Regions from separate parts of the Homo sapiens genome. Here regions 1, 2, 4 and 5 are each reported to be linked to region 3. The links are microRNA targets in miRTarBase. Many come from high-throughput screens and were not tested one by one. Region 3 holds a microRNA gene; each other region holds the end of a gene's coding sequence. Distances are from middle to middle.

Evidence for each region. Region 3 holds the annotated microRNA hsa-miR-942-5p (UCUUCUCUGUUUUGGCCAUGUG, at 2,108-2,129, shown strand). A microRNA usually pairs through its seed, bases 2 to 8, with sites in the 3' UTR of a target mRNA and lowers its output. Matches are read on the target gene's strand: a 7mer-m8 pairs with bases 2 to 8, a 7mer-A1 pairs with bases 2 to 7 and ends in A, and an 8mer does both.
Region 1: the mRNA of RPAP2 is a reported target of hsa-miR-942-5p. Seed matches in the 3' UTR shown: 8mer at 3,729-3,736.
Region 2: miRTarBase lists METTL15 as a target of hsa-miR-942-5p. Seed matches in the 3' UTR shown: 8mer at 2,351-2,358 and 8mer at 2,052-2,059.
Region 4: miRTarBase lists PTDSS1 as a target of hsa-miR-942-5p. Seed matches in the 3' UTR shown: 7mer-A1 at 2,061-2,067 and 7mer-A1 at 2,761-2,767.
Region 5: miRTarBase lists EXOC7 as a target of hsa-miR-942-5p. Seed matches in the 3' UTR shown: 7mer-m8 at 4,087-4,093 and 7mer-m8 at 3,949-3,955.

What each region holds. Positions count from the first base shown.
Region 1 is chr1:92,385,958-92,391,061 of GRCh38, forward strand. RPAP2 (RNA polymerase II associated protein 2) reads left to right here. Exons shown (of 13, transcript NM_024813.3): 13 at 1,054-5,104. The coding sequence ends at 1,054. Among named protein-coding and RNA genes, the nearest start is that of RPAP2, 89 kb to the left of the region's middle.
Region 2 is chr11:28,329,932-28,335,019 of GRCh38, reverse strand. It overlaps METTL15 (methyltransferase 15, mitochondrial 12S rRNA N4-cytidine), which reads right to left. Exons shown (of 7, transcript NM_001113528.2): 7 at 1,513-4,624. The coding sequence ends at 4,179. Among named protein-coding and RNA genes, the nearest start is that of MIR8068, 150 kb to the left of the region's middle.
Region 3 is chr1:117,092,548-117,097,651 of GRCh38, forward strand. MIR942 (microRNA 942) reads left to right here and starts at 2,096; the gene lies at 2,096-2,181. It overlaps TTF2 (transcription termination factor 2), which reads left to right. Exons shown (of 23, transcript NM_003594.4): 18 at 184-354; 19 at 2,762-2,820; 20 at 3,602-3,752; 21 at 4,804-4,886.
Region 4 is chr8:96,332,606-96,337,709 of GRCh38, forward strand. PTDSS1 (phosphatidylserine synthase 1) reads left to right here. Exons shown (of 13, transcript NM_014754.3): 13 at 852-4,390. The coding sequence ends at 961. Among named protein-coding and RNA genes, the nearest start is that of PTDSS1, 73 kb to the left of the region's middle.
Region 5 is chr17:76,079,281-76,084,384 of GRCh38, forward strand. EXOC7 (exocyst complex component 7) reads right to left here. Exons shown (of 19, transcript NM_001013839.4): 17 at 4,968-5,009; 18 at 4,726-4,859; 19 at 1,736-4,470. The coding sequence ends at 4,368. It overlaps ZACN (zinc activated ion channel), which reads left to right. Exons shown (of 9, transcript NM_180990.4): 1 at 1-81; 2 at 159-283; 3 at 422-466; 4 at 608-714; 5 at 975-1,144; 6 at 1,998-2,122; 7 at 2,265-2,475; 8 at 2,602-2,769; 9 at 3,183-3,526. The coding sequence ends at 3,373. Among named protein-coding and RNA genes, the nearest start is that of ZACN, 2.7 kb to the left of the region's middle. RefSeq lists enhancers at 1-733, 565-614, 734-1,729 and a silencer at 1,814-2,014.

The sequences.
Region 1 (5,104 bases), 25 Mb from region 3:
GGCAGGATCGCACTCCTCATAGACTATTGAACTCAGGGTCTCAGTTTCTCACTGTTGTCTAGAAACCTCCCCTAATCCCCTGCCCATAGGCCTTTCTAGAGTGCACCTCACAACATGGCATGTGGCTTCCATCGGAGTGAGCCAGTGAGAGAGGATACCCATGATGGAAGCCACAGTCTTTTTGTATTAATAACTAATCTCAGAAGTGACATCCCATCACTTTTGCTATATTCTGTTAGTTAGAAACTAGTCACTAGGTCCAGCCCATACTCAAGGTGAGAGGATTATACAAGGGCATGAATACCAGGAGACAACAGCCATTGGGGGATATCTTAGAAGGTGTCTAGCAGAGGGGCAAAAATGTTCAGTAGGCTCCAGTTTTATATATAGCATACCATACTGCCTTGGTGAGAGTCTTGAACTTCATCCTGACTGAGGACAGCCCTGAACCAATTCATGGGGTCATGGGAATGCTGTGAGCTAACGAAATCATTCTGGCAAAGGATAAGGGGAAGAGCTAATGAAATCATTCTGGCTAGGGATGAAGGAAAGAGAAGGGCTTTTCCAGTTGACCTTGATCAGTTAAAACTTAGCCCTCAAGTTGAATACGAAGCTCAGTCTACTCCACCCAAACTGTTGTTGGGTAGAATATACATGATGGGGAAGAAATTGAATGAATATTGACAAGACACACAGTGTCTACAACAGCTAGTAAAATACTTTACATGTTTTTTTGTTGTTTTGTTTTTTGGGTTTTTTTTGAGATGGTGTCTTGCTCTGTCACCCAGGCTGGAGTGCAATGGTGCAATCTTGGCTCACTGCAATCTCTGCCTCCCGAGTTCAAGCAATTCTTCTGCCTCATCCTTCCGAGTAGCTGGGACTACAGGTGCATGCCACCATGCCTGGCAAACTTTTTGGGTTTTTTTGTATTTTTAGTAGAGATGGGGGTTTCACCATGCTGGCCAGGTTGGTCTCAAACTCCTGACCTCATGATCTGCCTGCCTTGGCCTCCCAATACATGTTTTACTCAAAGTATCCTTTTTTGCTTCACAGATATATTCCATGAAGACAAAATAGAAGATGAACTTCTATTCACCGTTTCTGGAATTCTAGCCGCCATGATGGTCTGGTGGTGACTGATAACTAGTTTTATTCCAAGACATACCTTTACCTCTTTAAGTTTCAATCTCCCATCTCCCAGTCCTTCAGTCCCCAACTGCAGAGGATGACCTCCCCAGATAGAGGAGAATCATTACTCCAACAAGAATAACCAAGTCTTTGTATCCCTAGTACAAGACATAGTATTTTTATTCGAAAATGAATGTTTAAGTATTAAATTGAAACTTGAATGAATATTCAAGAAAATATAATGATCTCTACTTTTTCTGGATGATTTCCAGCCATCATATCAGTTTGCCAAAAAAATTGAGAAAGTTATGATTTTGACCTCCCAACCTAAACTCTAAATTCTAAAGATCAGTAAACAATTAGGTCAATAAATACATACAATTTAAGATGAAGCCCTTTGGAAGTCTAGTCCAAAACAGGAAAATCTCAGAACTTTCTGGACTCAAGGAAATGCTTTAAATGGAATCTGTAGTTTGTTTGCAGGAGAGACAATTTCTAGAATTTAGATTGCTTTTCAAAATGTTTATCAGGTAGGCAAGTTAGCAGTTGAGGCGGAACACAGACAACTTGGGGAGCTTTACTGGAAGGCCAAGAAAATACTCTTGGACACTGGAGGAAATGACAGCTACTAAAGCCCAATCATGGAAAAGGACCAGAAAGCAGCCCACTGGAATGGGGAGCTTAGTGGGCAAGGAGGTAGGGATATAATTTCTCTTCTTGGCTCCACCAGTAATTAGCTCTGTGGCCCAGTCACCTAAACTTTCTGGACTTCAGTTCAGGTTGTATGGCAGTAGGCCATAGAATTGGCTACTGCCATACAATCTCTATGGGAAAGGACTGCAAAAACTAAATTTTATCTCTGTATGGGCAAAGGCTACTGTCATCCTGTTGTTGGTCTGGGGCCACTCTGACAATTTTTTTTAACCTCATTTGATTGTGTAAGGGTCTAACCACAACAAAAAATCATAGTGTAATAGAATTAATCAAGTTCAGCAAGGTCACAGGCTAGATCAATATACAGAAAATCAATTGTATTTTTCTGTTCAGAAAACTCCAAAAATGAAATAAAGAAAATTGTGTTCACAATATCACCAAAGAGAATTAAATACTTAGGAATAAATTTAACAAAATAAGTATAAGACTTGTATAACGAAAACTATAAAACATTCAAGAGGGCTGGGCATGGTGGCTCATGCCTTTAGTTCTAGCACTTTGGAGGCAGAGGCAGGAGGACTGCTTGAGCCCAGGAGTTCAAGACCAGCCTGGGCAACAAAGTGAGACCCTGTCTCCACAAAAAATAAAAATAAAAATAAATTGAAGATGGCCGAATAGGAACAGCTCCAGTCTACAGCTCCCAGCAGGATGGACACAGAAGATGGGTGATTTCTGCATTTTCAACTAAAGTACCTGGTTCGTCTCACTGGGACTGGCTGGACAGTGGGTGTAGCCCACAGAGGGTTAGCCGAAGCAAGGTGGGGCATCGCCTCACCTGGGAAGCGCCAAGGGGTCGGGGGATTTCCCTTTCCTAGCCAAGGGAAGCCGTGAGTGACTATACCTGGAGGAGGGGTACACTCCTGCCCAAATACTGCTCTTTTCCCACAGTCTTCGCAACTGGCAGACCACGAAATCCCCTCCCATGCCTGGTTCAGTGGGTCCCACGCCCACAGAGCCTTGCTCACTGCTAGCGCCAGCAGTCTGAAATCGACCTGGGACGTGGGAGCTTGGCGGGGTAGAGGTGTCCGCCATTGCTGAGGCTTGAGTAGGCGGTTCTATGCTCACAGTGTAAACAAAGCAGCAGGGAAGCTCAAACTGGGCAGAGCCCACCACAGCTCAGCAAGGCCTACTGTCTCTGTAGATTCCACCTCCAGGGGCAGGGCATATCTGAACAAAAGGCAGCAGACAGCTTCTCCAGACTTAAACGTCCCTGCCTGACAGCTCTGAAGAGAGCAGTGGTTCTCCCAGCACCGCGTTCAAGCTCCGATAATAGACAGACTGCCTCCTCAAGTGGGTCCCTGACCCCCGTGTAGCCTGACTGGGAGACATCTCCCAGTAGGCGCCGAAAGACACCTCAGAGAGGTAGATGCCCCACTGGAACGAAGCTTCCACAGTAAGGATCAGGCAGCAATATTTGCTGTTCTGCAGCCTCCACTGGTGACACCCAGGCAAACAGGGTCTGGAGTGGACCTCCAGCAAACTCCAACAGACCTGCAGCTAAGGGGCCTGTCTATTAGAAGGAAAACTAACAGAAAGGAATAGCATCAACATCAAAAAAAGGACATCTACACCAAAACCCCATCCATAGGACACCAACATCAGAGACCAAAGGTAGGTAAAACCACAAAGATGGGGAGAAACCAGACCAGAAAGGCTGAAAATTCCAAAAACCAGAATGCCTCTTCTCCTCCAAAGGAACACAACTCCTTGCCAGCAAGGGAACAAAACTGGACAGAGAATGAGTTTGACAAGTTGACAGAAGTAGGCTTCAGAAGGTCGGTAATAACAAACTTCTCCAAGCTAAAGGAGCATGTTCTAATGCGTCGCAAGGAAGCTAAAAATCTTGAAAAAAGGTTAGACAAATGGCTAACTAGAATAACCAGTGTAGAGAAGAGCTTAAATGACCTGATGGAGCTGAAAACCACAGTACGGGAACTTCGTGAAGCATACACAAGCTTCAATAGCCAATTCGATCAAGTGGAAGAAAGGATATCAGTAACTGAAGATCAAATTAATGAAATAAAGCGAGAGGACAAGATTAGAGAAAAAAGAGTGAAAAGAAATGAACAAAGCCTCCAAGAAATATGAGACTATGTGAAAAGACCAAATCTATGTTTGATTGGTGTACCTGAAAGTGATGGGGAGAACAGAACCAAGTTTGAAAACACTCTTCAGGATATTATCCAGGAGAGCTTCCCCAACCTAGCAAGGAAGGCCAACATTCAAATTCAGGAAATACAGAGAACACCACAAAGATACTCCTCAAGAAGAGCAACCCCAAGACACATAATTGTCAGATTCACCAAGGTTGAAATGAAGGAAAAACTGTTAAGGGCAGCCAGAGAGAAAGGTCAGGTTACCCACAAAGGGAAGCCCATCAGATTAACAGCGGACCTCTGGGCAGAAACCCTACAAGCCAGAAGAGAATGGGGGCCAATATTCAACATTCTTAAAGAAAAGAATTTTCAACCCAGAATCTCATATCCAGCCAAACTAAGCTTCTTAAGTGAAGGAGAAATAAAATCCTTTACAGACAAGCAAATGCTGAGAGATTTTGTCACCACCAGGCCTGCCTTACAAGAGCTCCTGAAGTAAGCACTAAAATGGACAGGAACAACCAGTACCAGCCACTGCAAAAACATGCCAAATGGTAAAGACCATCAACACTATGAAGAAACTGCATCAATTAATGGATGAAATAACCAGCTAGCATCATAATGACAGGATCAAATTCCCACATAACAATATTAACCTTAAATGTAAATGGGATAAATGCCCCAATTAAAAGACACAGACTGGCAAATTGAATAAACAGTCAAGACCCATCAGTGAGCTATATTCAGGAGACCCATCTCATGTGCAAAGACACACATAGGCTCAGAATAAAAGGATGTAGGAAGATTTACCAAGCAAATGGAAAGCAGAAAAAAGCAGGGGTTGCAATCCTAGTCTCTGATAAAACAGACTTTAAACCAACAAAGATCAAAAGAGACAAAGAAGGTCATTACATAATGGTAAAGGGATCAATTCAACAAGAACAGCTAACTATCCTAAATATATATGCACCCAATACAGGAGCACCCAGATTCATAAAGCAAGTTCTACAAAGAGATTTAGACTCCCACACAATATTAATGGGTGACTTTAACACCCCACTGTCAATATTAGACAGATCAACAAGACAGAAAATTAACAAAGATATCCAGGACTTGAACTCAGCTCTGGACCAAGCAGACCTAATAGACATCGACAGAACTCTCCA
Region 2 (5,088 bases), not on the chromosome of region 3:
CAACAGCTAATAGTAGAAAACTTGTTCAGTATTTAAAGTAACATTACCAAAGACACAATCTCCTGCTGTGCATATTGAAATATTAAATTTTCTTTACTTTGTTGCCTAATAATTTGGGCAGATTATGAGAAGGAAGTGAGGTGGCCAAAAAGTCAGTGACAAGCATTATAAATTATGACCATTGTATGTTGTACAATTCTTCATTTTAAATGTTTTTAAAATTTTATGCTGCAACTAGACTTTAAAAAAATAATTTATATGTAAACTTTCTCTTAGCATTCCTGCAGATCATCCTGTGTTACCAAACATTAGTTGGATATAGTAGCTATAAACAGATAAGATTTGAGAAAATAATATAAAAATAGCTGTGTTTGTTATACAACCCAGCCTCTTTAGAATATAGGGTTGATTTTTACAAACCATACTTCAATCAACATCAAACATATGGCATTGTGGTTATGAGAAAAATATATCTTTGATCAGAGTTTCAAATTTATATTTATCAAGCACCTCACAAAATTCTCTTTATGTTTAAATGCTTATCCCTGTCTATTATAGAATGCTGCTACACAAAAATATCAATTAGGATACTGAAGCAATTATGAAAACTAAATAGAAAAATAATTGCAGTAAAATAAATTTTACAAAATTTTAACCAGAAGCAATTTTTAATTTAGTTTTTAATCTATTAAAAAGATTCTAATATGTAAGGCTTAGTTTGTCATGGTATGTGCCAAAATTACCTAATATTTCTTTTTCCAGAGATAAATTGAAACATAATTAATGTCACCTCAAATTTACATACCAATGTGAACAGAGAAGAAGGGATGGTATATAAAAAGAGGGAGAGTGGTGAAAAAGGTATTTTTTTATTTCTTCCTAAACAGTTAGCTTCTAATATACGCTTGAGTACATATATACATATATTTTTCTCTTTTTTTAGCCATTAAGTCCCATTAAGAACTGTCTCATACTTTTTGAATGACAGATTTCAAATGAAAGTAAAATTATTTTTTAAAAGTCTGCAGTACAGATTCATTATCTCTACTTCTTAAAAACAAAAATTAGAAACAAAAATTTTAAAAACCTTAGGTATGTAATACTCTGCAAAGACTTAAGAAAATATGATTTTCAAATATTTGCAAGTGAATTTTAAGAAATATTAGTTCATTTAAAAAATCTAATTAGGCATACTGTATTCTCTTATAAACTACTGCTTGTAGCACAACAAATAGTTTACTACAATGAATTTAAGCACAAATAATATATCATATACTACATGAAATAGAAAAGACATATAGATATAGTGTCTTTCAAGAACACCCCTAGAAACTTCAAAGAACATAGTAATTAATATACAATTTTAAAAATAAAATAAAAATAGGGATATTATCTAAAAATTGTAGTTATTAAATTTTATTTAAGTAATGAACTAAAAACTGTTAAGAACTGATGTACTACACAATGACATTGATACTATGTTAAAATGATTCATAGAAGGCAGTCAAGACAGAGATTCAGAAACATTTTATTAGAAAAGTAATGCGCATTCATAGTAACATTAGCTTTTATTTCTGTGTACTGTAGGAACTTCCCAAAACCATTCTCCAAAGCTAACCATTTAAAACTCATTCATGTATTTTATTATGCATCCTACAACAAAGACTAAGAAGCAGGCAAGAATTACTATAAAACACAATCTAATTACAGAAAAGTTAATTTATTTTTACATGAAAACATTTTGAAACCAATTTTGTGTTTATTGAAGGATTTTTCTCATGCATATTATCCAAGATTTTTTTCTGTCAGAGTATTAGCTTCCTAGGATTGCTGTAACAAATTACCATGAACTGGGTACCTTAAAACAGCAGAAATACATTCTCACTGTTCTGGATGCTAGATGTGCAAAACCATGTTAGCAGGGTTGGCAACTACTGGAACTCTGAGGGAGAATCTATTCCATGCTTTTTTCCTATCTTCTGAGGGTTCCCACAATGTATCACTCCAATCTCTGCCTCCAGCTTCATGTGGCATTCTCCCCTGTGTCTCTATCTTCTCTTTCTTCCTTTTTTTTTTTTTTTTTGAGACAGAGTCTCGTTCTGTTGCTCACACTGGAGTGCAGTGGTGTGATCTCGCAACCTCCACCTCCCAGGTTCGAGTGATTCTTGTGCCTCAGACTCCTGGGTAGCTGACATTACAAGCACCACGCATGGCTAATTTTATTTTTAGTAGAGATGGGTTTTCGCCATGTTGGCCAGGCTGGTCTTGAACTCCTCAGCCTCAAGCGATTTGCCTGGCTTGGCCTCCCACAGTGCTGGGATTACAGGCGTGAGCCACCATGCCCGCCCTATCTTCTCTTATAAGGAACACCAGTCATATTGGATTAAGGGCCTGCCCTGCTCCAGTATGACCTCATCTTAGCTACTTACAACCACAACCACAGTATTTCCAAATAAGGTCACATACTGAGGCTCCAGGAAGTACATGAATTTTGGAGAGGACACCATTCAACCCAGTACATTCAGTTTCTATTTAACATAAAAAATAATTCCCATACTATACAGGGTGAAAAAATGACTTATGAAATAGGTGAAAGATTGTTGAATATACAAATGTGATCTTTTCTTTTCCAATCACATACAGAGATAAGAATTTTTTGGGAATATGTCTCATTCACAAATATGTATTATATGCAAAGAGAAATTTATACAATGTTCAAGTAGGATTCAGGGAATTAACCTAGGTGCATTCTCTTGTTTCTATTTCAACCATATTGTTCTCCAGATTTTTTTCCTAATTCTGATTTCCCTGTAGGATTGTTCAGATTTAAATAAAGCCTGTAAAGCAGAAGTAGTGAACAAGCCTGGGTACTAAAGTTAAATATTACAGAGGCAGATAAAATAAGTCTGAGGAAAATTCATGCATTTAATTCTATCTATTTTGCCCACATAGTTATGCTGATATTTCATTCACTTGGATTCACCAACCTAAAATTTGTAACTATAATGGAGAATCTTTTTTCTGTATTTGAAAAAAGTGCACTGAGCAAATTAATAGTATAAATATGATTTCAAGGATAACTAAGAGAATATTTATTTCTATGTATGGTTAATCAACATGCCCCCTTCCATACTCCATGTGCCCTTTGACTAATTATCTCCAACTCATCTTTCAGGTCACAATTTAAGTATAAATAATAAATTAGAAGTACATATTACTATAAAAAATTGACATGTGAATTATGAATCAATCTCCTCAATTTGTTAAAGAATCTTCTACCAAGTACTCTTTTCTTGAATAAACTTTTACCCATATTACAGTTACCATATCTTTGTAACAACATTAAGGGAGCATTGATTTTACTATATTAAATAGACAGTTTTCTATTTCAAATAGACTTGGCTGAATTATTTTGATTAGCTCAATTAAAAAATACAAGATTCTAATAAGAGACTTTATTACTTACTAAAGGCATTGTGAGCTATTATTAAAATAAATACAATTGACATGAAATATAAGTTTTGTGAAACAATTCTCTGTAAGGATTTTACATTTTTACTTTGCGATAGATGAACAAAATGGCCCATATCATACTGAAAAATCCCTTTAAAATAATAGACTATAATTTGAAAGATGAAATTTTATCAGTATAACACACATTTAAACTAATATTTTAAAATTTAAAATTTGTAAAAAGCCTACATTTGAGAAAGCTAATTATTCACAAGTAGGGACATTAAAATTCATTCCATAATCATCATTATTTGAGCCACAGAAAGACTGATGCAAATTGGAATATCTAAATTCAAAATTTAGGACATGCAGATATGATTACAACATCTTTCTCTTTGGTAGCTTGAGTTTACGTATTTAGATAAACACAACACAGTATTATTTTTTAAAAAATTTCCTGGCCAGAGGAAGGATTGCCTTCAAGAGTCCAATATGATGCAAAGATTAACATATTTTTCCAGTCTGGAGGTGCTGCTGCTCCCTGAGTGTAACTTTCTCTGTCATGTATTTCCTACAGTTTCTTTTTGAGAAAAAAGAAATGCTAAATGCTATCAATTTTCAGACTGTCCCACACTTAAACCTATACCAAGACATTCAGGGACATAACATGAGTAAAGATTAGAGAAATTGTGAGAAAAAAATTTGAAGAATAAGATGATGATAACTTATAATTTGATAGCTGCTCTAAGCTTGGCTGAGCGCCCTCTGGGGTTATCTTGTACATCCTGATCTTGTGGACTAAGTACCTTCTTGTGTATCAATTCCCACATTAAAGGAGCTCTTCTCATAGAGACTTCTTCCGTGTTTTCGTGATCTGAACCCAATTGAGATGTTTTCATCACTTGTTGTCTAACACTTAGGTTAAATCTTTCTGTCATGCTTATTCCAAGCAAAAATCTTTTGACGATGCGATCCTCTAGTGAATGGAAGGAGAGGGCAACAAGACGACCACCAGGTCTCAGAAACTTCTGAGCTGTCTTCAGTCCCGTGTAGAGTTCATTGAGCTCATTGTTCACAAATATGCGAAGAGCCTGGAAAGTCTTGGTGGCAATATGGGTAGATCGCTGTAGTAAGTCTTTCCGTGTATAAATAGCAGAGGGAGGAAATGCTCCTAAAACAAATGTTGTAAAGATAGGAAAAGAAGACCGGTAACATTAATATTTTTCACTGTAAATCTAATGAATTGTGTAGTTGTGTGCATATTTAGTGAACTAAGTTTTCTTAGAAAATTGTGGTGGCACTTCATTCATACTTCCCCCTCTTATTCCCAAACATTCTTCCAAGGTTTAAAACTATGTGGCAAAAAAACCTTTCATAACTCATAAGGATAATTGGAGTTTAACAAGGAGCACAGAAAGAGAAATGGTGGACATATATTTAAAGAAATAATAACAAAATCCTTCTCAAATTTGGTGAAAAACGTTAACTCAAAGATGCTCAATGAAGCACAAATATAATAAACAAAATGGCTGCACATAGGCATATCATAAAACTACTACAGCCAAAGATAACAACAAAAAAAATGCCAACAGAAAAGAAAATTCATTACATAAAGAAGAACAAAAATATTATTAA
Region 3 (5,104 bases):
ATCTTTAATGTGGTGAAAAAACTTGCAAGATCACACTTTAATCAAGGTGTCTTGAGGAGTTACTGATGACAAATTACAAGATATTTTGCTCTGTGAAGTGGTAAACAATCAAAACATCATCAACAAGTAACAAGGTTTGCTCCCTTGACTCCCAGCTGCTCCTGTCCTTTTTTGTCTGTTCAGGCCCTGGATCCAATGGAACTGAAGGGTGAAGGTCTTGTCCTTTCCCTGGAAGAACAGCTCAGTGCTTTGACCTTGTCAGAACTCCGTGACTCAGAGCCATCTTCCACTGTTTCCCTTAACGGCACCTTCTTCAAGATGGAGCTTTTTGAAGGCATGCGAGAGAGCACCAAGGTACTTTTTGTCTCCTCTGTAGTAGTCGAGAGACTTCGATTCCTCACACATTTTCCTGTGTGACAGCACTTCATTTGTCCAAGTGGGAACAGCCATTTGCCAGCAGAGCTAGAGCCGTTAAATTCTAGCTGATCAGATTCTCCCTCCAGTCTTAAAGCTTCATTTATTTCACAGATAACACTAAAGCCTTACTACATAGGGGACTTTGAGAGAGTAATTTGGGACAACCCCAGCATTGCACTGAAGTGGGTTTTCTGTCATGGGTCACTGGGGAGCTTGCCAGGTTTGTGCTAGGGACGGGGCCTATGCAAGTGAGCAATTTGTTTAGAGAAAGCTTAAAAGGAAAACAAAGGCTTGACTCTAGAGACTGTGTCATACATGCGAGCGCCAATTGCTCTGACTTTGAAAGGCTTCCACATGTGAGTAGTGTTTCCTACATAGCCTTCTGTCTTCATTAGTCATTCTGCTCTGTTTTCGTCAGAGCTTTTTAAGGCAGAAACATTCTGCTGGAGGAAGGCTTAGATATGCCGTAACCTGAATCCTGCCTGTCTGCTGGCTCGGAATGTGCTTCATCATCCTGCCTGTCTTGAAAGTGAGGCTTGTTTCTCTCTTAGCATCTCAAGCTGCCGTTCTTGGGCTCAACCTCTCTTCAAAGGCTTTTTTTGAAAAAGTGTATTAATAACTAGAAAGGTCACTTCCAGGGGAATGGCATTATTTTTTAAAAGGAATGCTGCCTTTTAATTAAAATTTGAAAACATTTACCTAGGTCTTTACCACTGATAGCTGAGAGAAACATAAGAAGAGCATCCCATGTGGCCAGAACACACATGCTAGTGCCTTCAGAGTGAGCTATTGGGCTAAAATTTAAATTCCTAATCATTTGTGTTCCTTGTTTAATTAAATGCAGGTAATATTTATTCACAAGTTTTCTTAACATATGTCCATTAATAGTTCAAACCACATACGGTTGTTTCAAGTAGGGAAGGAGGCTTCTTACTGGAATTTGACCCCGGCTCGTGGGCCATAAATCCAGCCCTCCTGCTGCAGTTTTCTCAAAACACCATGGCTAGCTTTTTCATGTGGGAGTCACAGCGCCTTCCACAATCTCAAGTTGCCAAGACACCAGGCACATCAGTGTCTCTGTTCTATTGTTAACTAAATAACAGATGTAGCTGCTTTTCTGTCTGCTAATTTGAATGGTACAGTTCTGTGACTCACTTCCTGCCTAGGCACCAGAATGTTTGTTAAGATTGGAAAGCAGCCCCATGTGGTGACCACTGTAATGACATCCTAGAATGTGGGAGCTCAGGGCACCTCAGAATTTATCTGGCCTAAGTCCTTCTTTTCACTGATGAGGAATCTGAGTCCCAAAGTGGTCCAGCCATATGAGGACAGAGGAAGAACTTCTGTATATTTGTCTCCTGATTGACTTACAGCCCAGTTTTCTTCCTTCTCCAGCATTCTGGGGGTGAACTCTGGGGCCCTTAGAGGCTCTTGAAAGGTTTTTCACATGAGCAGCTGGGAAGAATGAGCCCAGCTGCACTCCAAAGTCATGCCCCACGTGTTCTTACTGACAGCTCCCCTGTGGACTCAAGTGCACCCTAAGGGTTCTTGGGGAATACCCAGGGAGCCTGTTCGGAAGCTTTAACAATGGTTCCTCCGTCTGGACAGGTCCTTTTCAACAACATTTGGAGCAGGCCATAAAGTGGGTAAAGCTCTTTCACTTTCTTCTTCAGCAAACATTAGGAGAGTATCTTCTCTGTTTTGGCCATGTGTGTACTCACAGCCCCTCACACATGGCCGAAACAGAGAAGTTACTTTCCTAATATTTGCCTCCTTGGAGTGTCTCAAGTCCTGGAAGCAAGAGATAATAAGCAATTAATATACAGTATGACAAGGACCGTGATAATAGAAACAAAAGGTGCTATGATAGTACTTGGGCAGTGGGCACCTAACCTGTACTTTGGGGGTTGGGAGGACCTCCAAGAAGAAGTGACATTAAGCTGACACAAAAGGGTGTTCTAGGCAGAGGGAGCAGAATGGACAAGATGGCCAGTGTGTGATTTATGGGAAGAATTTTGGTGTGCTTGCTGTGTCGTTTGAGGAGGGCATGGTGAGAAACGAACCCAGAGAAGCAGAGGCTGGAGCAGCAAGAATCCGGCAAGCTGCCTTGAGGAGCTTGGCCTTTATCCTCAGTGGGAAGCTATGGAAGGGCTTTAGCCAGAGGGGTGAAGTGACAAACTCACATTTTAGAAAGAGCTTTCTGGCTGCAGAGAGGAGGGTGGAATAAAGACAGGTGAGGCCAGAGCACAGACGCCATGTAGGAGGCTGCTTCGCATGGCAGGTGAGGGGAGATGGAGAAAAGTGAATTGCTTAAACATACAATGTTGATGTAACCTTTTCCCAGATTTCATCTCTGTTGGCAGAATTGGAGGCAATTCAAAGAAATTCAGCATCCCAAAAGAGGTAACTGCGTTTTCTCATTATCCAAGTATTGGTCATAATTATGTGAGAAAATTTGATATTGCCAAGAGTTATAAATCAAGGACTGTGAGTCATGCTCAGCAGAAAGCACTGAGGTTATAGCACACATTCCCTGTGATTTCTAATTAAAATATTTGTGGTACAAATTGAAAAGGAGATCCCTAGAGGATCAGGGTAAGCGAAGCATCTGAAAAAGTGTTTAAAAGTAGAGAAGCATATAAAGAAAAGCAAGCGAGTGAGGAGGCTCCAGCAGTGCTGATAACGTTCTTAAGCTGAGTACTTGGATACAAGGACTCATTTGTTATACCTGACATATGTGCTATACACCTGCATTATTTATAAAATAATTCAATATAAAAATTTAGAACTCGAATTAAGACAGCGTGGGGGCAGGGAGGAGCCTGTTGTTCTGGCTGGCACAAGAAGGGTGGTCAGTGTGTCCCTTTTGTGCAGGACCACAGATTTCTGGATGAGCACTAGGACCCCAAATGAAAGAAGGCTGGAGTCATCACTTTACTCTAGCTACCATTTTTTTCTGACTTCATTTAGCACTAAATAAATTGTAGAAAGGACCTAGAAATAACTGGAAGCATTATAATCTTCAGATATGACCTAAATGTGTGCCTTCTCCCTTAGGTAGCAGAAGGCCTTTCCTTGTCAACATTTGATAGCTAACCTTAAGAATGATGAGGGCATTAAAGCCCTGCAGATGAGTCTGTTTAATCTATGTTAGGGTATTTTTTTATTTTATTCTTCTTTCCAGTGTCATTGTCTCTCAGTGGACCAACATGCTGAAAGTTGTAGCATTGCACCTGAAGAAGCATGGACTGACTTATGCCACCATCGATGGCTCTGTCAATCCCAAGCAGAGAATGGACTTGGTAGAGGCATTTAACCACTCCAGAGGCCCTCAGGTACAAGCTGGTCACATCAGAGCCGCATAATTAACTGTTCTGAGTTATACAAAGAGAATTCTTTTTGTTTGGTTGGTTTTTGTTTTTGTCTTTTTGAGACGGAGTTTTGCTCTTGTTGCCCAGGCTGGACTGCAATAGTGCTATCTTGGCTCACCGCAACCTCCGCCTCCCGGGTTCAAGCGATTCTCCTGCCTCAGCCTTTCAAGTAGCTGGGATTACAGGCTCCTGCCACCAAGCTTGGCTAATTTTTGTATTTTCAGTAGAGATGAGGTTTCACCATGTTGGCCAGGCTGGTCTTGAACTCCTGACCTCAGGTGATCCACCTGCCTTGGCCTCCCAAAGTGCTGGGGTTACAGGCGTAAGCCACCGTGCCCAGCCATATAAAGAGAATTCTGATATGGCAACTTAAAAATATTTACAGCCTTGATTCCTCCGAGTGTTTAGAATTTATTAGACATGTATTGGGATACTTTTAAAGAGCACAAATATTCTAAAAAGAATCAAATATGAGGACTAAAAGGAGATTAACAGCAGAGCTGGTTAGGTTGAGGGGAATCTTTGCAGAGGAGGCAAGCTTTGAAGGATAGGTGGGGTTTTGGTATGAGGAAATATGGAAGGAAATGAAAGAACACAGGCATCTAATTATAGATAATAAAGATTTGGAAAGCATTAGTAGAATGATAGGCAGGAGAATTATTGTAGCAATGGAGGGGTAGGGACTGATGAAATAAACATAATCTGGTTAATTGAAAGTTTATTGAGCTGACCATCCCCAGGGTTCTAAATTACAGTATTTATATATTTTGGCAAGCACTCAGTTAATTTTTTGAGGTTGACTCACACACACACAAAATGTGATGTGAGAATTTTCTCAAAAGTGAGACATGGGAGATAGCATTATAATGTTAAAAAAAAAAACAATTTATAACAGCAGAAGGAAATTTGATAGGAACACAGTGCTTATCTGTATTGATTGTGGACTTAAACCTGAGACCGAGATGTGTTACGAGACCAAGTCTGTTTAAAGTTAATGTTGTGTTTCCTTTTGAAGGTAATGCTAATCTCTCTCTTGGCCGGAGGTGTTGGTCTAAACCTGACTGGAGGAAATCACCTCTTTCTTTTGGACATGCACTGGTAATGATTCCGGATTTGTCCTGGGTTGTCACAGCACATCAAGGAGGCCAGTGGGCTACAGGGGCAGCAAGAACTGACTTCTTATGTTGATTGCTGTGTTCGTATTGCAGAGATGCCTTGCTTTGTATGTGTCTATAGATACAGATCTAAGCAGGGTATAGGGCTAGCTGACTCCCCTGAATTCCTGAGCTAGCAAGCCTTCAAATGACTACTCAAAA
Region 4 (5,104 bases), not on the chromosome of region 3:
CAAACAACCTTGGCACTTACAGGTTCTCCACTGAAGAGAATTAAGCAGTAGTAGAGATGTATTTACTTGATGGAATAATAAAAAAAGAAAAATAACAAAAACAGAAGTCTTCTGAGTGGGGAAAGAATCTCTTAGTCTAAGTCAAATGCTCCTTACAGTGGAGACTGTAACTCTGGTAACTTTTTTTTTGTTGGCAGCCTCAGGTGGAGATTTCCTATGGGGCTGGATCAGAGCCCTGGGGCAGAGAACCCTTTGGCTTGGCCGCTAGGCCAGGCAGGGGCTGAACAAAGGCTCAGCTGGAGGGCAGAGGCTGCCCAGTGCCCTCCATCGTGGGCAGCAGGGGCCTGAATTGTAAAGATGTTCTCCAGATCAAATGTAGAGGGTGTGAAATAGCTCTGATTTTATAGTGTCAAGAGTCTTTCCTGATGTCGGGTTTAGAAGGTGGTGTGGAGCAGGTGAAGGGATGGAAACCCTTGGTTGCAGGGCAGGATGGGCACCGCGTGGTGTGTGTTTTAATTGCCCCTCGTTTGGGCTTCCGTTTCACTTGTGCTCTCACTTCTGGTCCTCACCATCATGACCATGTCCATCATACACAGGACAGATGTACACACGCTTCAGGAACCACCCAGACTTTGGGGCGCTATTGCGTTGAACCCCGCGCCACCGCGTGTGCTCCTTCAGTACTAGTTCTGTGTTTGAGAGCCTCGCCTTCATTTATGAATGAGGCCACTAGGGGGAGTGCACGTATCAGGGAAGAACCTGTTCCCCGGCAAGCCTAGGGCGGTCTGGAAAGGGACAGTCACCAATCTCCAGAGCCCAGGGTGACGGTGTGCTCTGATTCCTTTGGCCAGGTTCTGAAGACAGCCCACCCAAGCATGCAGGCAACAACGAAAGCCATTCTTCCAGGAGAAGGAATCGGCATTCCAAGTCAAAAGTCACCAATGGCGTTGGAAAGAAATGAAAAACCCTGGTTAATCAAAGATGTTCCAGAGTGCCTAGAACTGAGAGGGAAATGGAACTCATTTGGAACTCCCCGTGAGGAGGTCGAGGCGCACAGGGCAAGCAGGAAGAGGCGAGGGCACTTGGGGGTCATTATTTGAGATCGTAAGTCTTGTTTCCCACAGACCTGGCCGCGTCAGGCAGATCATCGCCTGGGGGGCCTTTGCCAACGTGGGGTCTCTTCTAACTTCAGCACTTGACATGCGGTCACCGGTGGCAGCGCGGTGTGTTGAAGGGAAACGGTAGCTATTCATTCACAGTTGCCAAGAGCAGCTCCGCGCCTGCTGGATCGTGGATGCAGCGTAAACATCTTCCTTCAGACGAGGCATTAACCCCATGGTTAATGGACTGGTCACCAGTTTTTATTTTATTTTTATGAATCTACCTTTCCATTGATTGATTTAAGTTCAGGCCACTTTTCTGTCTTTTATTTGGTTACTGTTGTTATTTGTTTTTAAGTTAGGATGCTTTTTAACAGCCTTTAGAAGCCGCTGCTGAAATTGATACTGGGGGAAGGGTTCCCCTTCCTTCTAGAGCAGAAAAGGGAGAGAGGTGTTGTATTCCTGTTTGGTAACCTCAGTCTCCTGTAAGACCTCCTACCACATGGCGAGTATACACCAATCAGGAGAGGGTAGCTGCCTGCATAGGAGCCTCGCTTCCGATTATTCCCTTCCCAATATTATTCATCCAGACTTAGCCACAGTGCACAAAAGCAAACCTGCTAGAGAGGCAGTGAACACCACAGCTTCTCCCCAGCTAGGTGCCTTTTACATCGGGTTTGTTCTCCTTCCATGGTGTGTTGCTGACATTGTCACTGAGTCCCATGTGAGGTGCTGGTGAGTATTACCTTTCATCTGTGCCATGCTCTAGAACCTTGACCTTGATAGTTCACCACCTCTGATGGATCCCTGTTTTAAATAAAAACGATTCACTTTAAAGCCTATCAAAGGTCTGTCTGTAAAATGCTCATTTTCTTGCATCTTACTGGTATCTTCTATTGATTGTAAGCAGTCTGTGTTTTTCAAGTGACTTTAGGATAATATATATGTGTTTTACATAGTGAGAAGAAAAAAGAAAAGATGTGTATTTTAAAGGGCTTACAGACATATATGTCCTACTTCTTAGACTACCCAAGTGACCAACAGGAATGAACAACATAGTCATTGTTTTTTCCTGTGGTAATGGTTTCCAAGTTGGACTTTTTTTTCCTCTAACAAGAGGCCAGTACCCAGTTGATTAGCTTACAGATATCAACTCACTGAAAGTAATCTTTTGTTCCCTCATTTCACACAGCACAAAGGTTCGTTCTGATGTTTCTTCTTCTTTAAGGAAATCTTTAGCCATAGAAGTGTCACTTTTTTTTTTTCTGCAAAAGAATTCCAAGATGAACGGGTTGAATGAATCATGCCAGCCAGGGTCACATCCTGTCCTCAGGGGGCCCAGTGCTCAATAGTAGATTCTGCGGGAGTGGAGAAGCGTCAGTGGCAGCTCCGCTCACTTGGTGAGTGAGGGATTTGGCTGTGATGAGCCTCAGCTCCGAGCTCTCAAATGTCCTCCAGCCAGCATCTGCCTGCTTCCCACAAAAGGATAGAAGAGAGGCAAAGTGCGTGTTTCATAAAACCTGCCTGCACTTTTATAACCCATCAAAGAGGCCATTTTTAAACACAGGTACAATTTAAACATGATCTTTCTTTGCAAATAAATATGTTTTGTTTCATCCTGTGTTCTGCTTTTCTAAGCATGACATACTTGTGCCCATTGGAGAAGACACCTGTCTCTTCTTTCTCACACCGGTGGTGCCTCACTGAGTGTTTCCGGGTTCATTTTCCGGGAGCACTGGGCCTGACACTTTCACACTCTTCTGACTTTCGCCTTGTTGCAACTGATGGAGCATGTGTGCTTCCTCTGAGGCCAGCCTACAGGAGGCAGCTGTTTCGCAGGTGGTGAATTCGACTTTACTGTGGCATTGTGAAGAGCAGGGTGCACAGGAGATGATTTTTTCTCCATGGCTTTGTAAGAAACAGCCAGGAAAGTTCTCAGATACTTTCCATGCCCTTTCTTTGAGTTGAAACTTTCTATTTCCCTTCAGTCAGAGCTCTTTACTATAGTAGTTACAAAACCAGTGCTTTCCATGGCTGGCCAGAACCACAGCTGCTATTCCTTTTAGAAGCCATACTGCTGGGTTTGGCCTACTTTTTTCACCGTTTCTATGGAAATAAACCTCACATTGATGGAAATAGAATGCGTGTTTCAGAATCATCATTCAATATCTGAAATGATTTGATTGTAAATTATCTCATGGTCCCTGTTTGCAAACCACCCTCTTAAGAGAGAACATTGTTTTGGACCTAAAGCTTGAAGAACGGTTTATGTATTTTTCTCCTTAAGTAGCATTGCATTGAGTGTTAGGTTCTTTTCCCTTTTTTTCATTCTTGGTCTTCCCAAAGCTTCTTCCCACATTTCGTTTGTGTCTGTTTCCACCATTCATAGAAACCTTGGAACCACTCTCACAGCAATGCTAGGATGTTTCATGGACCTGTTAAGCATTTTGATGATACAAGACATCCTATCAATGCCAGTCTTATTTTCGCTAGGACTCTGCTTCCACAGTAAGCTCCTAAGGTGCTCACCCAACCCAGGAGAAAACAAAATTCATTACCAAATACAACAGGTTCAGCCTTCTTGGTCTTCCCTCAGAAGCCACCGTGTAGCACCCTGGAATGATGCCTCTTTATGCCAAGGCCCACCCTTTGGAATTGGGAGGGTTTTGGGTAGAATCCTGCACTTACAGAGGCCCTTGGGGTCATTGAGAAGTGGAGGAGGTTGGACACAGAAGGGGAGGCTAAACACAAGGTGGGGAAGAAAAAATGTAACCATTGGCAGCCAGACTGAAGCTAGCCCTTTAAAATACGGGGTTGGGGGGTTAACATCCGCTCTTTGGAATGTGCTCAGTGACTGCTGCAGAGTTCCTGGGCCACCCTAATGTTTACCAGGTGGGCGTTGTTTATATGGTTCTTATTGTTATGACAACTAGAAATCCCACAGTAGACTAGACAGTGCTCCCTACCATTTCCCATTTATAGGATTGAAATCAAGATGTAAGGAGAGCTGGCCGGGCGCAGGGCTCACGCCTGTAATCCCAGCACTTTGGGAGGCTGAGGTGGGTGGATCGCCTGAGGTCAGGAGTTTGAGACCAGCCTGACCAATATGGTGAAACCCTGTCTCTGCTGAAAATACTTAAATTAGCCGGGCATGGTGGCAGGCACCTGTAGTCCCAGCTACTCGGGAGACAGAGACAGAAGAAATGCTTGAACCCAGGAGGTGGAGGTTCCAGTGAGCCGAGATCACGCCACCGCACTCTCTAACCTGGGCGACAGAGCGAGACTATCTCAAAAAAAAAAAAAAAAAAAAAAAAAAACTGTAAGGCGAGCTAAGACGTCTGTCTATCAGTGTTCCATTACATAATACACCTCTTTCCTTCACATGTGTGTGCACATTCTCAGGATTATATTAGAGATTTGATTCTTTGCAAGGGTCAGTATCAGTAATGGCTGAGACTGGTGGGCTGCAGTCATGTTGCTATGCCGTAAGAGGTTTTTACAACATTTCCCCTTATCACACTTTATTCTAACCTGATGATGGGCCTATCTCAGGTGAAGATTGCAATAGTTTCCTTAATTGAACTTTGGTATTTGATGCATTAAATAAATATGGCTTTTTAATTTTGCTATCTTCTGTGAATTTAAAGGAATTATTTCATTGATGTCTACCAAAGAAGATAAAAAAACAGTTGGATGTGAAATTTTTTTAGGTTGTGGGAATGCTACGTTGTAAAAATCTTCCTTTTCTTCCATGTTCACTAAAAAATGCCTTTAGTCCATTTCAGAAAGTTCATCTGTGACTTGGTCTACTCTGATATTCCCTTTCTTGCAGCTTGTTAGGTGGAATTTTGAAGTTGCTTGTCCTGCAAAGAGATATTTGTTGTCACAGTCTAACAGTGTTCAAGGGTTTGCAACATGTCCAAGTACCTCCAAGGCCTCACAGGGCTAAGCTGAATTTATCCCTCATGATACTCTGATACTCATAATACTCTGGTTGAAGCCTG
Region 5 (5,104 bases), not on the chromosome of region 3:
CCCTGCTCCATCTCACCTTCCTGGGGTTCAGCATTACCTTGCTGTTGGTCCACGGGCAGGGCTTCCAAGGGACAGCAGCCAGTAGGTGGAGGGCAAGGTCATAAGCTTTGGGACTTGGGCCCTAGGGCACCTGAGTGACCTTGACTTTTCTCTCTCAGTCTGGCCATCCCTCTTCAACGTCAACTTGTCCAAGAAGGTTCAGGAAAGCATCCAGATCCCGAACAATGGGAGTGCGCCCCTGCTCGTGGATGTGCGGGTGTTTGTCTCCAACGTGTTTAATGTGGTAAGTGCCTCTAGGCCAAGGGCCCCAAGTGCTGAGCTGGGCAGGGAACAGGACTCAGCCCTGGATAGTGCTGGGGTCTCCTGCTGCGTTCTTTCAACACAGCGCTCACCCTGAGGTGATGCATTGCCCTTCCCCCAGGACATCCTGCGATACACAATGTCCTCCATGCTGCTGCTTAGGCTGGTGAGCTCCTATGCCTGGGGAGGTGGGATGGGAAAGCCCAGCTGAGTCCAGCTCAGAACTACCAGCCTTCATCAACATGCTGAGCTTAGGGGCATGGATATGTGGAGAGCAGGAGCCTCAGTGGTGCCCTTGTGTCCCCAGTCCTGGCTGGACACTCGCCTGGCCTGGAACACTAGTGCACACCCGCGGCACGCCATCACGCTGCCCTGGGAGTCTCTCTGGACACCAAGGCTCACCATCCTGGAGGCGTAAGTGAGACAGTTCCTGCCCCAGGAATCTGCCATGCATAGCCCTCCTTTTCCCCCATCTACAACCTAGAGGCTGTCTGAGTGAATATGACCCTCCTGGCGGTCCCCGCCGGACTAGCAGTGCACCTTCACTGCCTCGAATTCCCCTCCCACTGCCAGAACTCTGAAAGCAGCTGGGGTTGGGGTTGGGATGCCAGGGTCTCCCCCCGGCCCCGTCCAAGAAGGGGCTGGGGCTCTGGCTGTGGTGCCTTTCCCCACAGGCTCTGGGTGGACTGGAGGGACCAGAGCCCCCAGGCTCGAGTAGACCAGGACGGCCACGTGAAGCTCAACCTGGCCCTCGCCACGGAGACCAACTGCAACTTTGAGCTCCTCCACTTCCCCCGGGACCACAGCAACTGCAGCCTCAGCTTCTACGCTCTCAGCAACACGGGTGCTGACAGGGCAGGGGCTGCAGGGTTGAGGAGGGGAGGAGGAAGGTGGGGGAGGGGAACTCCCAGGTCTGTGGTGCAGGGGCAGGGTGCGGGGCAAGGGGAAGGGGCAAAGGCAGACAGAAGGCGAACTCCCAGGTCTGTGTTCAGAGCAGTCTACCCCAGGCTTAGGCGGGCAGCACCTGCTCTCCCACTGCGCCCCCCACTCGAGTGGCAGCCCATCTCTGTGCTCAGCGGTAGCCTCAGGGCCCCTCTCTAGGGTGACAGACTCAAACATTCGCAGCAGCTCTGCAATCCCAGAGGTCCGAGCACATCAGTCTTCTGTCCTCCCCAGAGCAACTGCCCTCCACAGCCATGGCGACTGCAGTGGCTCGGCCCCTTGCAGCAAGGCCAGAGGCTCAGGTTGCCATGGCCTCACTCCTGGAAACCACCTGAAGGTGCAGCCACCCTGTATAAACCCATCAGGTGACATCTAACTTGGCAGAGAAGTCCTACCCTTCCCTCCATGAGAGACCACAGCGGTAGCCCTGGGGATCCTGCTTCAGCTGTGAGATGATAGACTGACGAGCCTGTGACCACTTCTCCCTCCATCATGAAGTGGTGCAAAGTACATTTATTTTTACAATGAAAGCTCATCTATGAATCTGATAAAGGCCTTCCTTCAACTGGAGACAATTTGGGATGTTGCAAAACAAGGTTTGGGAAGCCCTTCTATGGATCGGTTTTGTGTCCAAGTCTGTCCCTGCCAAAAGCCATCAAAAGTCTCCATCACCCCTGGGCTCCAGTCTGCTACCCCCAGACTTGGCAGCTGGGATCTCTCCTTCCTGGTTCATAGTTCTCATTCCCACCCCTCAGCGATGGAGTTAGAGTTCCAGGCCCACGTGGTGAACGAGATTGTGAGTGTCAAGAGGGAATACGTAGTTTATGATCTGAAGACCCAAGTCCCACCCCAGCAGCTGGTGCCCTGCTTCCAGGTGACGGTGAGTCAAGTCGGGAGGAGGCCGACAGAGGGCTGCTGGAGGCGGGTGGGAGTGAGGATGCACGGCCAGAGGCCAGGCCCCATGCCCCCGATGCCCACCTCCTTCCCCCCCGCCGGGAAGGCCCTGACTTTTCCCCTTCCAGCTGAGGCTGAAGAACACGGCGCTCAAGTCCATCATCGCTCTCTTGGTGCCTGCAGAGGCACTGCTGTTGGCTGACGTGTGCGGGGGGTTGCTGCCCCTCCGGGCCATTGAGCGCATAGGCTACAAGGTGACATTGCTGCTGAGTTACCTCGTCCTCCACTCCTCCCTGGTGCAGGCCCTGCCCAGCTCCTCCTCCTGCAACCCACTGCTCAGTAAGCCCTGCTCCCTTACCCAGTCTGCCCTGTTTCTCCCCGGTCACCCACTGGTGCTCAGCTCGCTGGGCACCAGAGACACAGGGACTGGCCCCTGAGCATCTCCCTGTGCCCTGCCTCCCCCAGTTTACTACTTCACCATCCTGCTGCTGCTGCTCTTCCTCAGCACCATAGAGACTGTGCTGCTGGCTGGGCTGCTGGCCCGGGGCAACCTTGGGGCCAAGAGCGGCCCCAGCCCAGCCCCGAGAGGGGAACAGCGAGAGCACGGCAACCCAGGGCCTCATCCTGCTGAAGGTGGGCAGGGGCTGGGGGGTAAGGAATGAGGCCTAGGTGCACACCTAGGGCTGGGGTGAGGGCACGGAGGTCCAGGTGTGGGTAGAGGCCCCTTGCATCCACCCTGCTGGCTCTCCTGTCCCTGGTCTCCACCATGTCCTCCTCCCTTAGAAGAAACAGGTCTGGGGCAGGGAGCAAGCTGAGCCTCCCTGAAGTCCCAGGTGACCTCAATCCCCTGATAACCCATGCCTTGCACAGCCTAAGAGGGTGTTTCTTCAACTGAAGATGGCCTGAAATGGGCCAGACCCAAATTTTCATCAGCTGAGAATCTAAGAAAGGAAGCGATACAGGCTGATGACCCCTGGGGTTCGCTCTTCCGCTCATGTTGAGGGGACCTTGAAGAACAGCTCCTTTCCCTGTATCTCTCCCCACAGAGCCCTCCAGAGGAGTAAAGGGGTCACAGAGAAGCTGGCCTGAGACTGCTGACCGCATCTTCTTCCTCGTGTATGTGGTTGGGGTGCTGTGCACCCAATTCGTCTTTGCAGGAATCTGGATGTGGGCAGCGTGCAAGTCTGACGCAGCCCCTGGAGAGGCTGCACCCCATGGCAGGCGGCCTAGACTGTAAAGGGGCAGGGCCTGGGCTGCACACCTTAGGATGAAGTTTGCTTTCCCATGGCTGGGGGCGGGCCATGACAGGGCCTCTGGATTAAGCCACCCTGAGCTCTCCCTCCGCTAGCACACAAGCACAGAGCGTGAAATAAACCCATCTCCAGTGCAAGTGTGCCTCAAGGGTCAGTCTTCAATCTCGTCCTAAATAGGTGGGGCCCTATTTTTTGCTTCCAACCCCCATTTTGCTCCTTAACTTTTCCCCATTGTCCCTGTCTCCCAGCCCACAGGCAGGCAGCCTAATTGCTCCTTCTGCAACCACGACTGCCTGGCCCTGGGCCAAGAGGCACTGAGGCTGGGGGCCAGAGACAGGGGCCTGAGGAAGGCTGTAGAGGGTGGGGCGGAACTCCTCCTCCGAACGCCTCCTGCAGTGTGCTGGACTCTAGGGAAAATGGCCAGTGAGCCTGCCTCCCCCAGCCACCTAGGGGACTCCTGGGAGGGAAAGGTCCCAGACCTCAGGCCTGTGGGCGGGCGGGAATGTGTTTTAAGAGAGGGGGTCAGTCCCGACTGCCTTTCCTCCAGGAGCTCTGGCTGCTTCTCTGAGCCCTGCCACATCTCTGGGCTGTAGGGGAGTTCTCTGTCCCCACCTCTGACCTAGGCTGGAGGGAGGGCCCTTCTGCCCTGCTGCTCTTGGTACACATGGAGCAGCAGTGGGCACAGGCCTCTGTCTTCCTTCTCTCTTTTCCTGTTTCAGAAGCCATCAGGGTCATAAAAGCCAAGGTGTGGAGGGACCCCAGGCTTCCGGGAGAGTGCTGGTTCGGCTGGGAACACGGGCTGTGGGGAAAAAGCAGGAGCCAGGACTAGGGGGCTCAGGGACACAGCTCCCGGAGGCGTGGAGACAGGTCTCTGTCCCAGAGGACTTCAAGCTCACCCAGCCCAGAGGCAAGCTAACACTGGTTTATCTGTCCAATGACACGCCAGTCTGGTGGAACCAGGCAGGGCTAGCAGCAGGCTCAGGCAGAGGTGTCGAAAAGGCGATCGATCATGTCGCCCACCTGCTCCACCCCGTACTTGATGTACTTCTCCGGGTTCTTGGTGAAGGGCACGCTGCCAAACCTGAGGAGGCACTGTGGTCAGGGGACAGGGAGGGCCGACCCCTCCCCAGCTCCACCCTCAGCCTAAGGCACTCCTGATAGTCTTGGAAGGGGTGGCCCTGAGCGATTCCCTGTCTGGCCCCGCCCCAAAGCCCAGGTCGCTGGATCTGCTGCCTAAATCCACCACCCTTCTCCTTTTTCCCTTGAGGAAGAGGAGCTTGAAGAGGCCCACTGGGGCTGTGGGCAGCACAGGCTGGGAGGGGAATGGAGGCCTCACTTCTGTAGAAAGGCCCCGTAGGTCTCCTTGACAATGGTCTTCTGGGCCTGGCGAATCCTGTCCCTCTGCTCTGTGTCTGGAATAGCCCAGGCCTTCTGGATTTTGCACAGTTCTTCGAGGCCATCATTGAAGCCCTGGCCACCAAAAAGGTGAAAAAGGAAGGCACCCAGAGACAAACATTTTGGGTCTGTGTTGCCTCAACAGCAGCAGCAAGCAGTGGAGGGGAGAGGACCCCGACTCACCTTAAAACGCTCCTTGATAATCTGCCGCTCCTTGTCCCGGAGCTGGGAAGCCAGGAGAGATAGCAGAGAAAGCTCACTTCAGAGCAGAGCAGCCTTCCCCCACTCTTCCCCAAACACCCTTGGTCTGGGCCTGTCTC